Regions from separate parts of the Homo sapiens genome. Here region 1 is linked to region 2. The links come from fine-mapping of genetic effects on gene expression. Tissue or cell type: nucleus accumbens. Region 2 holds a variant in brackets; the other region holds the start of a gene. All regions are shown on one strand. Distances are from middle to middle.

Region 1 (2,914 bases), 59 kb before region 2:
TTGTGTGGGTCAATATTAGCTTGTTGGGAAACAAGTGCCAGGTAGTCTGTGACATTCAAGGCCCTGATATCCTAAGAGTAAGGAAGAAATAGTGTTTAACAATATTCATCAGAGCAGTGGAGTATAAGAAAAGTCCACATATGTTCTGTGAGTCAGCATGCTGGGACTGAATTTCTAACCTCCTGGTTCTTAATTTCCTCATCTGTATAATGAGAGACTTGTTGAAGATCTTGCTAATATTCTACAGTGGGTTTTAATTTTTTTACATACTTGGTGAAAAAAAAAACAAAACCTCATTTTTTCCCCTCAATCTGATACTAGCTGGTCTAAGTCTCCATCCTTCAGGTTAGAGGAGCACTTTCCCTCAGTCATGTTTTCTACGAATCTCTAGGTGTCTTGCAGTCTAGAACATTCAAGTAAGGATTCCTGGTCCTCTGAACACTTTGGTCCCTTTTAAAGGTCCATGGCGCCGGCTACCTTGAAGAGGCAACTTGGATGTTCTCCAGACAAACTTGGACATGGGAATGTTCAGAAAAATGGGAGTTTGCGCTCTGGGGGTCCTGGTTCTCTGGTTAACCCATCTGAGGTCCAACTACCCTCTGGAGAACAGCAAGGAGACAGATTTGTTCTCTGTGATTCTTAGAGATGGGTCCCAGTCTTGGGAAGCAATGGAAGCCTCTTTCCTTTCCCATTAGGGCCATTTACACCTTTCCCAACTTTTGGTTTCTTTCTCCGGGCCATACACTGAATCCATTGTCATCATATGCTTAATTTTTCTATCACATAAGCCCTCAGTGAAGGATGTCTTCTGGGTGTCTAAAAACATTCTGTTTTTAACCATATGTCAGTTTATCTTTGGTTGTGTGCTGAACATGGTATTTGTAAAATACTTGTTGAAATAATTTGAGGGCAAGGATAATGTTACCTTCCTCTGAGGAGGATTTGATTTGTCTTTGCAAGGCACCTCAGGGAGCTTGCAATTCAAGATCAGGTTAATTCAAGCACAGGACTTTTTACCAAGCAACTTAGAAATATTTAAATAATTGAACAATTGATACAGCTGTACAGGTGCCTCCCAAATGAATATCAGCCCTAAATGCCCCCAATACTTAGGTTAAGTTCTTGTTAATATGGCTATATAACATATCACTCCCAAATTTAGGATTTGAAACAATAATTATTTCTCACGGTTTCAGTGGGTTAGCTCAGAAGCAGCTCAGCTGGGTGGTTCAAACTCAGGGTCTCTCATGATGTTGCAGTCAGATGTCAGTAGGAACTGGAGGCTCCAATTCCAAGGTGGCCCACTTACAAGGCTGGCAAAGTGGTGCTGGTGATTGGCAGGAACCCTTAATTCTTCTCCATGTGAATCTGTAGATGGAGCTGCTCGAGAGTCCTTGGAGAGCGGTGGCTGGCTTCCGCAGAGAGAGAGATCTAAGAGGTGGAAGATACAATGCCTTTTGTGACCTAGCCTCGGAATTCACACCCCATCACTTCCTCCACATTCTATTGGTCACCCAGAGCCAGCCCTGATTCAATGCGCAAGGGAACTAAGAAGGACATGAATACGAGGAGGCAGGAACCATCACAGGCTGTCTTGCAGACTGGTTACCACACACAGAAATTGGGACTTGAATCCAGGCCTCTCTGATGTCAAAGTCCTTGTACTTCACTGTGCTGCCCTCCCCAAGCAGCCTCTTGAATCTGTGGATCCCTCTAAGTGTAATGTCACCTTCAGCCTGCAACAGTACAGAATGGATAAAGTAGTGATATTAAACATGCTGTAAGAGAAGAAGAGAAGCCTAGGCTCCTTGAGCATGATTATAAAATGGGGACCAGTGAGGAGAGGATAGCCTCAAGAAGAAGAATTGAGAGGGGCTTGGTTAACTATCCCTAACTGGACATTCTGCTTTTTGCTGTTCCTGGCATCAGCTATCAGAAAGTCTCTGTGGGTGAGTTTCTGAGCACTCTTTTATGCCATTAACTACACTCTTGCGAAGCTTCTGTTTGAAGGGTTTGGATTTTCTTAGGCAGTGCCAGGTTTTCAGAATAGAAATTGACTGGTTTCTCCCCCAGAAAGTCTATAGCCTACCGTGTTTAACCCCAACCTCTAGTAATAGCTCAATCCACGCTGATCCCCCAGGGTTTGCAGAACAGAGTCTCGGTTGCAAACACTGCAATCAGCAGCTTGCTGTTTTTCTCTTTTTCTTCCACTTTATTTTATATTGATATTTAATGAATGTTTCTTTGGTGGTATTGCTATGTTCATTATTTAAACTCTGAAAATTGAAGCCATAGAAAATAATTGTTGATTCACCACAGGGAGCCATATAAATATTGTTCTAAATTCTAATGACCATGACCATTGGGATTATTTTTTGTGAAGCATAATTTCCATTATTTTGAAAGCCCTCAAGTCAGTATCTTAGAAGGGCAGCTGTTTTCTTGGCTATTTTCAATAGGTTTTTCTTCTTTCTTCATTTTTCCTTCCCTCCTTACCACATTAGACACCCTCCTTTTATTTCTTCCCTTGCCATTGTATTGTTTTTTGTTTGTTTGTTTTTGTTTGTTTTTGAGACAGATTCTCACTCTATCACCCAGGCTGGAGTGCAGTGGTGAGATCTCAGCTCACTGCAACCTCCGTCTCCCGAGTTCAAGCGATTCTTCTGCCTCAGCATCCCGAGTAGCTGGGACTACAGGCGCACGCCACCATGTCCGGCTAATTTTTGTATTTTTAGTAGAGACTGAGTTTCACCATACTCTCCAGGCTGGTCTCAAACTCCTGACCTCGTCATCTGCACGCTTTGGCCTCCCAAAGTGCTGGGATTACAGGTGTAAGCCACCACGCCCAGTCTGTATTGTTATTTTTATTGCTATTGTTAATATAAACGAGGCCTCAGGACTTAGAGCTTCACAA
Region 2 (2,914 bases):
TTTTATGAGTTACTGGTATAATGATAAATATATTAATATCATAGGCCAGGCGTGGTGGCTCACACCTGTAATCCCAGCACTTTGGGAGGCCGAGGCGGGTGGATCACGAGGTCAGGAGATCGAGACCACGGTGAAACCTCATCTCTACTAAAAATACAGAAAAAATTAGCCGGGCGCAGTGGCGGGCTCCTGTAGTCCCAGCTACCCGGGAGGCTGAGGCAGGAGAATGGCGTGAACCCGGGAGGAGGAGCTTGCAGTGAGCCGAGATCACGCCTCTGCACTCCAGCCTGGGCGACAGAGCAAGACTGCGTCTTAAAAAAAAAAAAAATCACATAGTTCAATTTTTTTTTCTTCTGACTGAAATTGACACTCTTTGGTGGGCCTGTAAGTTTCCTGGCCCTGGTCACTGTGCCCACCCTGCCCATGGCTAAGGGGTCCTAGCAGCAAGCATGTATGTGGCTGGCCCCTACACCCTCCCACTCTGCCAGAGATTTTTTCCAAAAGGAATCTCCCTGCACGGAGGGCGGAGCTCGAGATCTCCATGTCGCGGGGTGGCTCCGAGGTCACCACTGCCCAGCATGTCTCTGGCTGCTGACAGGACTCTGTGCTTTCTTAACTCCTTGATGGAGTTCCTGGAGTTGGAGGGAAGCGCTTCCCACCAGAAACCCACTTGTGTCGGTTTTTCTTCCATTCGAAACAAATGATCAAAGTGATAGCGTTTTCTATGTTACGTGTCTGTCTCTGGTCACTTAAAAACAAAACAGAGCAGGGTGTCCCCTGACAGCCCAGGAGAAGAACAGGAAGGCAGCCCTGGGGTTACCTGTCAAGGTTCAGATCATGACCTCCGCAACGGCCACGGCTGGGTGACATCGTCACTCCCCAGGGGACAGGCGATCCCCTCCTCACCCCACAGCTCAGACCCCAGGATCGGCCCCAATCCCTGTGTCCTGAGCTCCTCCTACTTCCCCTTTCCATCCCAGCCAGCTCCGAAGGAGGCCGGCCCTGTGAGACAGGGAGGGGTCCAGCCTGGGACCCGGCCTGAGCCGGGAGGGAGGGCTTGTCTTGCTCCGGCCCCTGTGATGAGTCCCCTCTTACCCGGCAGGTGGTGACTCCCCATCCGCGGAGGCTCCCCCGCTGACCCCAAGTCCCCACCGCTCTGTCCTTCTCCAAGGCCCGGTGCAGGAGCACCCTTTGTCCCTGGGTGGCCTGACCCTGCTGACCACGGGTCACCTCCCTGACCACGAATACTCTGCCAACTGCCTCCTGAGTGACCGAGACAGCTCAGTCTAGAGTCTCGACTACCCGGGGTGACCCAATAGTCCCGACTCCCCGAGACAGGGACCCGGAGACGTGGGCTTTGTCAGTTTAACAGATTCTGCCTCCGGGAACCAACTGCCGGGAGATTCTGATTGGCTCAGCCGCGTGCCCACGTGACCGACCAAAACCGGCCACCAGGGTCTCCCAACTGCCTGTCAAACGCACAGCCCT[G/A]TTGGGCCCCCGGAGAGGAAGAGCCGAGAAGGAGGCCAGGCCGGGGGTCAGGTGGCTTCCTCTATGGGCCCTTTAATCCACCTCACTTTTTTATCTTCTTTTTTTTCCCAGCAGCTTTATTAAGTTATAATTCACACACGATGTAATTCGCCCATTTAAAATGTACAATGGGCCCGGCGCGGTGGCTCACGCCTGTAATCCCAGCACTTTGGGAGGCCGAGGGGGCAGCGGGGATGGGGGTGGCGGGTCACCTGAGGTCATGAGTTCAAGACCAGCCTTGCCAACATGGCAAAACCCTGTCTCTACTAAAGATACAAAAAATATCCAGGCATAGTTGTGTGTGCTTGTAATCCCAGGTACTCGGGAGGCTGAGGCAGGAGAATCGCTTGAACCTGGGAGATAGAAGTTGCTGTGACCTGAAATCGCACCACTTCACTCCAGCCTGGGTGACAGAGTGAGACCCTGTCTCTAAAATAAAATGAAATAAAATAGAATATACACTGGTTCTTAGTATAGTCACAGAATTGTGCAATCATCGGCACCATCTAATTTGAGAACATTTTCTATATATATGTAGAGAAAGGGGTCTTGCTATGTTGTCCAGGCTGGTCTTGAACTCTTGGGGTGAAACCATCCTCCTTCTTCAGCCTGTGCAATACCTATGCTTGCACGGGTGCAAGCATCAGCATTACAGGCATGAGATGCCTCACCTGGCCCAGAACTTAGTTTTTTACTGAAAAATATTCCCTTGTATGCATATATGATATTTATCCAGTCATCAGCTGATGGACTTTTGAACTGTTTCCACTTCTGTTTATTATGAATAAAGCTGCTATGAGCATTTGTGTAGAAGTTTGTGTAGATTTATGTTTTCATTTCTGCTTATATAAGTAGGAGTATAATTTCTGGGTCAAAGTATAACTGTGTAGTTTTTGAGAGGAATTGCCAACCTGTTTCCCCTCTTCTTTTTTTTTTTTTTTCTTTTTTTTTTTTTTCAGAGATGTGGTCTCACTCTGTCACCCAGGCTGGAGTGCAATGGCACAAACACCACTCACTGCAGCATCAACCTCCTGGGCTCAAGTGACCCTCCTGTCTCAGCTCCTTAAGTAGCTGAGACTACAGGAACATGCCACCATGCCTGCATAATGTTTTTTTGTTTGTTTCTTTGTTTGTTTGTTTGTTTGTTTGTAGAGACAGGGTTTCATCATGTTGCCCAGGCTGCTCTCGAACTCCTGACCTCAGGCAATCCACCCATCTTGGCCTCCCAATTGCTGGGATTACAGGCATGAGACACAGCACCTGGCCGCCAATCTGTTTTCTAAAGTGGCTGCACCATTTCACATTCCCACCAGCAGTGATGAGGGTTTTTTCCTCCATCCTTGCTAACACTTGTTCTTGTCTGTAGATTTTATCATAGCCATCCTAA

Alleles and levels. Alleles are on the strand shown, and positions count from the first base shown. SD is a standard deviation of normalised expression in the study named.
As copies of G replace A in region 2, the expression in nucleus accumbens of the gene that starts at base 1,433 in region 1 goes down (large effect, 1.2 SD a copy in GTEx).

The links.
Region 1: LINC00658 starts here. The variant in region 2 is fine-mapped to the expression of LINC00658 in nucleus accumbens (GTEx, PIP above 0.99). The same link has a PIP of 0.9 or more in caudate, cerebellar hemisphere, cerebellum, cerebral cortex and putamen.

Annotation. Positions count from the first base shown.
Region 1 is chr20:5,444,316-5,447,229 of GRCh38, forward strand. It overlaps LINC00658 (long intergenic non-protein coding RNA 658), which reads right to left and starts at 1,433. Exons shown (of 5, transcript NR_038240.1): 1 at 1,189-1,433.
Region 2 is chr20:5,503,203-5,506,116 of GRCh38, forward strand. It overlaps LINC00654 (long intergenic non-protein coding RNA 654), which reads right to left and starts at 1,394. Exons shown (of 2, transcript NR_015406.2): 1 at 1,096-1,394. RefSeq lists an enhancer at 1,140-1,249. The variant G/A (reference allele first, on the strand shown) is at 1,489.